2 separate regions of the Homo sapiens genome follow, and region 1 is linked to region 2. Evidence: fine-mapped expression QTL. A gene starts in region 2. The other region holds a variant in brackets. All regions are shown on one strand. Distances are between the middles of the regions. Region 1 overlaps ATP6V0A2 (ATPase H+ transporting V0 subunit a2). Region 2 holds the start of ATP6V0A2 (ATPase H+ transporting V0 subunit a2).

Region 1 (5,000 bases), 32 kb after region 2:
AAATGAAATTAGACTTTTGAGGCTGGATGCGGTAACTCACGCTGGTAATCCCAGCACTCTGGAGGCTGAGGCGGGCGGATCACTTGAGTCCAGGAGTTTGAGACTAGCCTGGCCAACATGGCGAGACCCTGTCTCTACTAAAAAATACAAAAAATACACAATAGAAAAAAAATTAGCCAGGCATGGTGGCACGTGCCTGTTATCCCAGTTACTTGGAAGGCTGAGTCACGGGACTCCCTTGAACCCCAGAGGCGGAGGTTTAAAAAAAAAAAGATTTATGGAACATGGTGAAGATGCTTAGCTGCTCAAGGAAATTCATTTTTTAGACAAGGTCTCACTCTGTTTCCCAGGCTGGAGAACAGTGGTAATGGTCGTAGCTCACTGCAATCTCAAACTCCTGGGTTCAAGCAATCCTCCCGTCTCGTCTCAGCCTCCTGAGTAGCTGGAACTACAGGCATGCACTACTATGCCTGGCTAATTTATTTATTTATTTAGTTAGTTATTTATATTTTTTTGTAGAGATGGGGTCTCTACAAAAGACGGTGTCTGGTCTTGAACTCCTGGGCTTAAGTGACCCTCCTGTCTCAGCCTCCCAAAGTGCTGGGATGACAAGCATGAGCCACCATGCCTGTCCTGCTCAAGGAGATTCTATATTATTACACAAGCAATATAAATGTATATTTACATGAAAATAGTTTTCTGGCAGATGTTTATGGTACTCAAGGAACTTTTAGAAGATGGCAGGTTCAGGATAGCGATCCTAACCTCACTGATGGTTTTTTCTTTTTTTTATTTTTTGTGTACTGAATGCAAACACGTCGGGTCCTGGATCTGAGATGTCCTCTGTGTCTCTCTTGTGAACTCCTCTGTCTTTTCTCTTTCGTTCCTGTCCTGCTCAGTTTTGATCTCACTCCCAGCAGTTTCTCCTCAGCGTGTGGCCGCTCAACAGGGGAGGACCTGGCAGGTCAGTGCCGTGAGTTTAGGGACTGGGCTGCCCTGCCCCAACCCCTGCAGACTTCACTGCCCATGGCCCCTGTGCCGTCGCCTACTCTTGGACTGGACAGAACTCTTCCCAGTTCCAGCTGCTTTTTGTGGTTTGGCCTCCTCTGCTTTCCCAGGGAGGTTCTTTCTGGCCATTTTTGGTGTTGTTGGCCCAGGCCCCTTGGAGGCCACATTGCTTACTTGCATCCTCTGCTCTGGAGGCTGCTGGGTAGGTCTTGTAGCTGTTGGTGGTTTCCTCACCCATTTGTATTTTGGGGACTGTGGGGACGTGGTTTGGCTGTAAATGCCATCCGTAGGCTTTAGGTCTTGCTAGCTGGTTGCACTTTCTGTTCTGAAGGGGACTTGGGGACGTTCAAAGCTGTGCCACCCTCGAGAATTTCCCCAGAACCCCATTACATGCATACGTTTTAAGAGACACATTTTGGCCGGGTGCAGTGGCTCACTCCTATAATCCCAGCACTTTGGGAGGCCGAGGTGGGCAGATCACCTGAGGTTAGGAGTTCGAGACCAGCCTGGCTAACATGGTGAAACTCCGTCTCTACTAAAAATACAAAAACTAACCAGGCGTGGTGGTGTGCAATGTAATCCCAACTACTTGGGAGGCTGAGGCACGAGAATCGCTTGAACCTGGAAGGCAGAGGTTGCAGTGAGCCGAGATCACACCACTGCACTCCAGCCTGGGTGACAGAGCGAGACTCCTTCTTTAAAAAAAAAAAAAGACTTATTTTGACCAGAAAATCTACTATTCTGTCAATAACCTGTTTACCTTATTTTAAAAGTGTTTTCATTATAAATCAATATAATGCATTTCAGAAGAATTGCAAACACTGATGGATAAAGTTATATTTATGATTCTGCCATAATAGAATTCATGTTGACATTTTGGTTTATTCTTGCCTTTCTCATTTTTTTATTAAGTATATTGCAGTTGTCTCAAACTTCCTCTTTCTTCACCGTTTTTAAGAGATAAAGTACTCAGTGTCGGTTTTCTGTCAGTGACTGAGCCGACTCCATACCCACGTGCCCCGCATTCCCCAGCCCCCATTCACTTCCGGCGCATTCAGTCCTGCTCTCACCCTTCCTTCTTGGAGGCCACAGGCCCCAAGTGCCGCCCTTGCCACCCCCTGATTCCTCACAGATGGACTTTTCCTCCAGGCCCTCTGGCTGCTCTTGACCCTGTTGAGTGGAGATTAATCCTGCACCAAAGCCACACACACAGCGTTGCCAAAGCAGTAACACAAGGCTGGGCACGGTGCTCACACCTGTAATCCCAGCACATTGGGAGGCTGAGACAGGTGGATCACCTGAGGTCGGGAGTTCGAGACCAGCCTGACCTACATGGAGAAACCCCGTCTCTACTAAAAATACAAAATTAGACGGGCATGGTTGCATATGCCTGTAATCCCAGCTACTAGGGAGGCTGAGGCAGGGGAATCGCTTGAGCCTGGGAGGCAGAGGTTGCGGTGAGCCGAGATCACACCATTGCACTCCAGCCTGGGCAACAAGAGTGAAACTCCGTCTCAAAAAAAAACAAAACAAAACAACACCACCAAAAAAAACCAAAAAACAAAGCAGTAACCCAGATTCGTTGAATATGGATAGTTATTTTCTTCTTGGATAG[T/A]AATTTTTTATCTTTCCTTGTTTATGTGGAAGAGAGAGAGTGGTGCTACAATCCCCTCATTCATGAATATAATCCCCACAAAAGAAACACCCCCCACTCGGATCCGCACCAACAAATTCACCGAGGGATTTCAGAACATCGTGGATGCTTATGGAGTCGGAAGCTACAGAGAAGTCAATCCAGGTTGGAAGTCTGATTTGTAAATACCCGTATTTCCAATGGCATTGTTGCATTCTTGCTCTAAGAATGGAATAGATATTTGGAAAGAGAGGCTGACCATTACTTTTTTGCTATCTTATTTAAAAGTATAAGGTTTTAAATGTAACCACACAATCCTATCTTGTGAATTCTGGAGAAAGTCAAGATTGTTATGTATCATTGTGTTTGAATGAACTCAGGTTTTCCATATTTGCTGTGAATCAGAAATCTCTTTCCCTTTTTTCTGCAGCTCTCTTTACCATCATCACCTTCCCGTTTTTATTTGCTGTGATGTTTGGAGACTTCGGACATGGCTTTGTGATGTTTTTATTTGCCCTCTTGTTGGTGTTAAATGAAAATCATCCCAGACTAAATCAGTCACAAGAGGTAAAAATATAAACACTCCAGCTCATATATCTGGTTAGGTGGCATTAGCAGTGACCGAAAGAGAGACACCTCTTAGATGTTTGCTGTAGGCTGCGGCTGTGCTGGGCAGGTGTGTGGCCTGTCAGCTGCGGCTGACAGGGATGTCTGCGGGGCGAGGCTGTTTTCTGAGAAGTGAGTGGTGAGGGTCGTGCCCACACCGACAGCTGTCACATGGACACCCTCCAGTAACCATATTCTGCCCCCGCCTTGCCCTTCACAGATCATGAGGATGTTTTTTAATGGCCGGTACATCCTCCTGCTGATGGGGCTGTTCTCAGTGTACACTGGCCTCATCTACAACGACTGCTTTTCAAAGTCAGTCAACCTGTTCGGCTCTGGGTGGAACGTGTCGGCCATGTACAGCTCCAGCCACCCACCCGCAGAGCATAAGAAGATGGTGCTTTGGAAGTAAGTGTCCCATAGCTGGTGATGCTCTGGGTGGAAAGCATGTTTCCTAGACCTTCCTCCTCCCAGGTCAGCCTCCTCACTCTGCTTTTTGTTACAGTGACAGCGTCGTTAGACACAACAGCATTTTGCAGCTGGATCCAAGCATTCCTGGAGTGTTCCGAGGCCCTTATCCCCTTGGCATTGATCCTGTGAGTGCACCACGCTCTGTCGTTGTCTCTGGATGCTCTGTGGTGCCACCTAGCTTCGGGCGCCACGAGTTTCTCTAGACTGTTGAGCAGGGTTCACGCTGCCCTGAGCGGGAGGTGCTCATTAGCCCCTGTGCATCCCAGTCCCGGACACTGGGAGGGGAGGCCAGGAGCTGGGGGGCCCTCCGTTTGGGAAGGTGAGGTCAGAGGAAGTCCTCAGAGAGCCAGGGCTGTGTTCTGTCATGTGTCCTACCTATTTTCCTCTGGCTGAAAATGGCACTTCAGTAGCCCTGAAATGTGTGCCATTTCCTACATTTCTTCCTCGTATATGTGAACTTTTAAAAACCCTTGATCTCGAAAGAAATGGTATGGAGTGTTAGAGCTGAAAGGAAGCGTGAGGTTATTATGGTGCTTATTGGGGTAGTTGTTTGGAATGGGAAAAGTGTTAATAGAAAGAAAATGGGGAAGTACTCACGCCTGTAATTCCAGCACTTTGGGAGGCCGAGGCGGGCAGATCATGAGGTCAGGAGATTGAGACCATCCTGGCTAACACGGTGAAACCCCATCTCTACTAAAAATACAAAAAATTAGCTGGGTGTGGTGGCTGGCGCCTGTAGTCCCAGCTACTCAGGAGGCTGAGGCAGGAGAATGGCGTGAACCCAGGAGGCGAAGCTTGCAGTGAGCCGAGATGGTGCCATTGCACTCCAGCCTGGGCAACGGAGCGAGAGACTCTGTCTCAAAAAAAAAAAAAAAAGAAAATGGAGAAGTAGCCCCAGGGTGCCAGGACCCCCAACCCCTTCGAGGGCTCAGCAGGCGGTGGCTGAGGCAGTGGACTGCAGGGTTGGGTGGGGTTTTCCTGAGCTGTCAGGAGTCTTTCTGGAGAATCAAAAGAATGACTGAGAAACAATCTCAAAGTTGGTTTGTGGATGTAATTGTGTACAGTCGTTAAACTGAGCAAAAAAAGTCTAGCATTCCTTAACCTGGGCTCTCCAAGGAGGAAGTATCTCTTAGTGTGTTCTGTTTATTCTTATCTCTAATCATGATTGGTATAATTTCATGTTGTAGCATTAAGTCTTAATGTAATTGAAAACTTGGAAACACGGCTACAACAATTTCTTTAAGATACAGCATTTTGGAGCCAAATTCAGTAATAACTTGTA
Region 2 (5,000 bases):
ACCCCACTCAGTGGGGAGAATGGATTTTTTTTTTTTTTTTTTTTTTGAGACTCGGTCTTACTCTGTTACCCAGGCTGGAGAGCTGGAGAGCAGTGGCACAATTACGGCTCACTGCAGCCTCGACCTCCTGAGCTCAAGTGATCCTCCCACCTTAGCCTCCCAAGTAGCTGGGACCACAGGCTTGTACCTGGCTAGTTTTTGTATTTTTTTTTTTTGTAGAGAAGGGGGTCTCCCTATGTTACCCAGGCTGGTCTCGAACTCTTAGGCTCAAGTGATCTACCTGCCTTAGCCTCCCAAAGTGCTGGGATTATAGGTATGAGCTGCTGTGCCCAGCCCTGGAATAGATGTTTTTAGCCACGGTCCTACAGTGGCCACATGGCACATCACCTGTAAGTTTTCTTTGTGTGCCAGGTAACTTAGTTGTTTCAGATGGATTTTCTATGTTATTTAAGCCTAATTTTGAAAAATAATTATTTTCCCTTTTATACTTTTTGATCGAATTCCTAGTGCCTGCTGATACCCAGCACCACATAAAATGTGCTGTTTCATCTTCGCTGCAGAGTTCCTGCCCAGGGGCAATTTCAAATTTTCCTCCAGTCTTAAGTCCATTTTCTTTTTTCTTTTTTTTTTTGAGACGGAGTCTTGCTCTATTGCCCAGGCTGGAGAGCAGTGGCGTGATCTTTGCTCACTGCAAGCTCCGCCTCCCGAGTTCACGCCATTCTCCTGCCTCAGCCTCCTGAGTAGCTGGGACTACAGGCACCCACCACCATGCCCAGCTAATTTTTCGTATTTTTAGTAGAGACGGAGTTTCACTGTGTTAGCCAGGATGGTCTCGATCTCCTGACCTCGTGATCCACCCGCCTCGGCCTCCCAAAGTGCTGGGATTACAGGCATGAGCCACTGCGCCCGGCCTGAGTCCACTTTCAAATAGGGGGATGAGCTAGTCACTGCAGAGGTCCTAAGTTTCTGCATGATGGAAATACCGTGAATTTCAGCATCTGTACTGTGGTGGTGTTGGGCCTTCACCCGACCCCTCTAGGGCTGACTCAGGAATCTGGGTCAGTACTGGACTGACGGAGCTGGGGTCTGAGTCAATTATTGTCTGAACTTCAGCCTTTGAATTCACCTTCACAGTTCTTACTGTATCTTTTTGTTGTTGTTGTTTCTTTTGAAACAGAGTGTCACTCTGTTGCCCAGGCTAGAGTCCAGGGATGCCATTTCAGCTCACTGCAAGCTCCACCTCCCAGGTTCAAGCGATTCTCTTGCCTCAGCCTCCCGAGTAGCTGGGACTACAGGTGCCCACCACCACGCCTAGCTAATTTTTATATTTTTTTAGTAGAGACGGGGTTTTGCCATGTTGGCCAGGCTGGTCTCAAACTCCTGACCTCAAGTGATCCACCTGCCTCAGCCTCCCAAAGTGCAGGGATTACAGGAGTGAGCCAGGGCACCCAGCCTAGTGTAACTAGCTTTGGATTTCAGGTATTTATGGAAAATAAATTTAAAACTTCCAAATGACAGGTAATTTAGCTTGATTTTGTGGGCTTTGTGAGGACGCCTTTTGTACTTAAAAGAAGGAAAAAACTCAGTTTGGCAGAATGGGGTCTGGAGTGTCTATGGTTTTAACTTTTTTAAGTTTATACATTTATGTATGCATTCATGAACTATTTATTGAGTGGCTACTATGTGCTGGGGCTTGGAGATACCACAGTGGCAGAAACAATGTCCCCACCTTGGTGGAGCTTCCATTCTAGCAGGGAAGACTGGCACTAACACACAGACAAGATAATTTCAGATGGTGGCAGGTGCAGTGAAGGAAATAGAACAAGGATGTGACTCCAGGGACAGTCTCAAGGAAGGGGATATGTAAGCAGAGACTCGACTGGGACAGCGGTGAGGTTGCGGCCTGGGGCGGGGGGCCACTGCTTCCCGGTCAGTGTGGGGAACACACACTGGGTGCTGTGTGATTCCATCGACAGGACAAGCCTGGAGGTGGCAAATTTAGCGAGACAAAATTGTCCTGTGGTGGCCAGGCCGGGCGGGAAGGGGAGACTGCAACTGAGCAGGAGGAGTCTTGCGAGGTCGGTGGGAAATGTTTGAAAACTGGATTGGGATGCTGGCTGCACACTCCAACTTCACGAAGAAGCCTAGGATCCCTCCGGGCGGCGGATCACGCCTGTAATCCTAGCGCTTTGGGAGGCCAAGGCGGGAGGATTGCTTGAGTTCAGGAGTTCGAGACCAGCCTGGCCAACATGATGAAACCCCTTCTCTATAAACATTTTAAAAACAAATTAGCCGGGTGTGATGGCGCGCGTCTGTAATCCCAGCTCCTCCAGAGGCTGAGGTGGGAGGATCGCTTGAGCTCAGGAGGTCAAGGTTGCAGCGAGCCGAGCTCGTGCTACTGCACTCCTCCCTGGGCCACAGAGGGAAACCCTATCCATAAAAAACCAGCAGCAGGGCCGGGCGCAGTGGTTCACGCCTGTAATCCCAGCACTGCGGAGGCCGAGGCAGGCGGATCACCTGAGCTCTGGAGTTTTGAGACCAGCCTGGCCAACATGGTGAAACCCCGTCTCTATTAAAAATACAAAAAAATTAGCTGGACGCGGGTGGCGCGCGTCTGTAGTCACAGCAACTGGGGAGTCTGAGGCTGGAGAATCGCTTGAACCTGGGAGACGGAGGTTGCAGTGAGCCGAGATCGCGCTACTGCACTCCAGCCTGTGGGACTGCGTGAGATTCCGTTTCTCTCTCTCTCTCTCTCACACACACACACACACACACACGCAGCAGCACAGGGTCGTGCACTAGGAACGGGTGAGCTTCGCGGCGTGCACACTCGGCGAGACTCCTCCAGGAAAGCCGGGGAGCCGCGCGGGATTTAGCTCTGCGTCCAGTCCGGCGGAGCGCCAGCTGCAGTGGTCGTACCCGCCGGGTTCGCGCTGGTTGGCCCTGCCGCCACGTCGTGCGGCGACAACCTCGGGCGTCCATTGGTCGGCCGGCGGGGGGGGCGGGACGCGGGGGCGGAACCGGAACCGGCAGTGGCTTGGGGGCGGGACCTCGCGGACTGCTGTGGCGGCAGCTGGAGCGGCGGCCGCGGTGGCAGAACCGGGGGCGGCCGCTGCAGTCTGGAGCCCCATAGTGCGGGGCCGCGGCCAGGCCACAGGAAGAGCTCGAGGCCCGGGCCGCACCGGCTGAGTGTGCGGGCCCGCGCGGCTCGGAGCCGCCGCCGCCCATCGAGCCCCTCCGGGCGCGGGTCGGCCCGCCATGGGGTCCCTGTTCCGGAGCGAGACCATGTGCCTGGCGCAGCTCTTCCTGCAGTCGGGCACGGCCTACGAGTGCCTCAGCGCCCTGGGCGAGAAAGGCCTGGTCCAGTTCCGAGACGTGAGTGTCGCCCGGGAGACGCGGGCCGCACCTGCTCTCCTGGCGCCCCCAATCCCGCGCATCGCTGGGGCCCTCCCGCGGGGAGCACCGAGGAAGGGCGCGCCCCGTCCCCATTGTCCAGACGGGGAAGATGACACCCCAGCTCAGCGGCCAAAGCTTCCCGGAGCGCGGGGCTGACTCCAGGGTCGCCGGCCGTCTGTGTGGTCGGCGGCTGCTCTGCCCCAGTTAGTTAGGATCGCCCGTGTGGTCTTCATCAGCTCCGGGCACCGAGCTCAGCGGGAGAACAAATCCCACAAAGGCCTCTTGGAGTCCTTTTGGAACTTTACGGGGGTTAGGGGGGCGCATTAACCAAATAAATAGGTCAACCAGAAAAGGTTTGCCATAAAGAAGAAACGGGGTGATGTGAAGGTGATTCGGGCGGGAGGTGAGTGTGAAGGGATTGTCGAGGAAGCCTCCCGGAGAAGGTGATATTTCAGCTGAGACCCAAATAGAAAGGAGCCAGCCGTGGGGAAGATCTGGGGAGAGGGTCCTTGTTGGAGGGAACAGGAGGAGCCCAGACAGAGCCAGAAATGGGAAGGAGCTGGATGTCATCTGCTTGAGGAGAGGGATTTTTGTGTTTTGGTCACTGATGCTTAATGCTGTACATACCATTGTGTGTAAGGACTTAAGAACTCAGTCATTGTTTGTCGAGTGGAAGCTGTCTCCCCAACAAGTAATAATAAACATTTGTTTGTCCATTTACTTGTTTATTGTTTGTCTCCACCAAGGACTGTCAACCTCTGAGAGTAAGTACCTTAACGCAGTCCTTGGCAGTCATTGGCATCGATAGGCATTTGTTGAATGAACAGACAAGCTTTTCTTGACTGCCCGCTATGTTCAGGCACTGTTTTTGGTGCTGGAGACTCGGTGGTGAGCAAGGCAGACACAGTCCCTGTGTTCCTGGAGCTTCCAGTGTGGGAGGAGACAGATTAAACACACTCTGATTATGAGCTGTGATAAGTGCTAAGAAGGCAAAGAACAGGGTGTGGAAGGGAGACCGTGAAGCAAGTACTTACTGACTGAATTGAAATCCACTCAGGCGAACATTTTATTTCCTGGCCACCACTTTCATCTCCTGACTGTTTCCCTTAATCTTCCTAAGGTGTCCTTAATTTCAAAAGGGATCAGCCCTACCCGAGATCTGATATCCATTGATATCAGATATCTAATACCAGATCAGCCCCATAAGGCAGTTGCAAAGTCATGGAGAGACTCCTGAGTGACAGGCGAGGGTGCAGGTAAGATGCAGGGCGGTTCCTGGTTCCTGGAGCCACTTCTGCAGTTGTACCCATTCACCTGATGGATGCTGCGCTGAGCTGTGAATAGCACCCAAAACATTCAGGCAACAGCTGCAGGTGCAGCAGGCTCCTACATTTGTAACAGGTAGATGTTTTCCTTCCGGTTAGTACTCAAGCCAAGACACTTATCACACTTCAGTCTTACAGGTTTGAGCAAACGTACTAATCACTATGAAGGTTCCAGTTTCAATAAGCGCCACTACCTCCAGTCATAGAGTGTACCTGGGATCCTTTTCAACTGAATGTCAGTGAAAGGAGAAGAAAGTGCTGTTCATCTTTTTCCAGAAG

The links. PIP is the estimated chance that this variant, and not a neighbour inherited with it, causes the effect.
Region 1: its variant is the best candidate, but not a certain one, in a credible set for the expression of ATP6V0A2 in whole blood (INTERVAL, PIP 0.54).

Annotation. Positions count from the first base shown.
Region 1 is chr12:123,741,130-123,746,129 of GRCh38, forward strand. It overlaps ATP6V0A2 (ATPase H+ transporting V0 subunit a2), which reads left to right. Exons shown (of 20, transcript NM_012463.4): 10 at 2,656-2,806; 11 at 3,072-3,208; 12 at 3,468-3,655; 13 at 3,753-3,843. Among named protein-coding and RNA genes, the nearest start is that of DNAH10, 19 kb to the right of the region's middle. The variant T/A (reference allele first, on the strand shown) is at 2,624.
Region 2 is chr12:123,709,308-123,714,307 of GRCh38, forward strand. It overlaps ATP6V0A2 (ATPase H+ transporting V0 subunit a2), which reads left to right and starts at 3,046. Exons shown (of 20, transcript NM_012463.4): 1 at 3,046-3,375. The coding sequence starts at 3,259. LOC105370042 (a long non-coding RNA gene) reads right to left here. Exons shown (of 3, transcript XR_945477.4): 3 at 3,459-5,000. RefSeq lists a silencer at 2,871-3,420.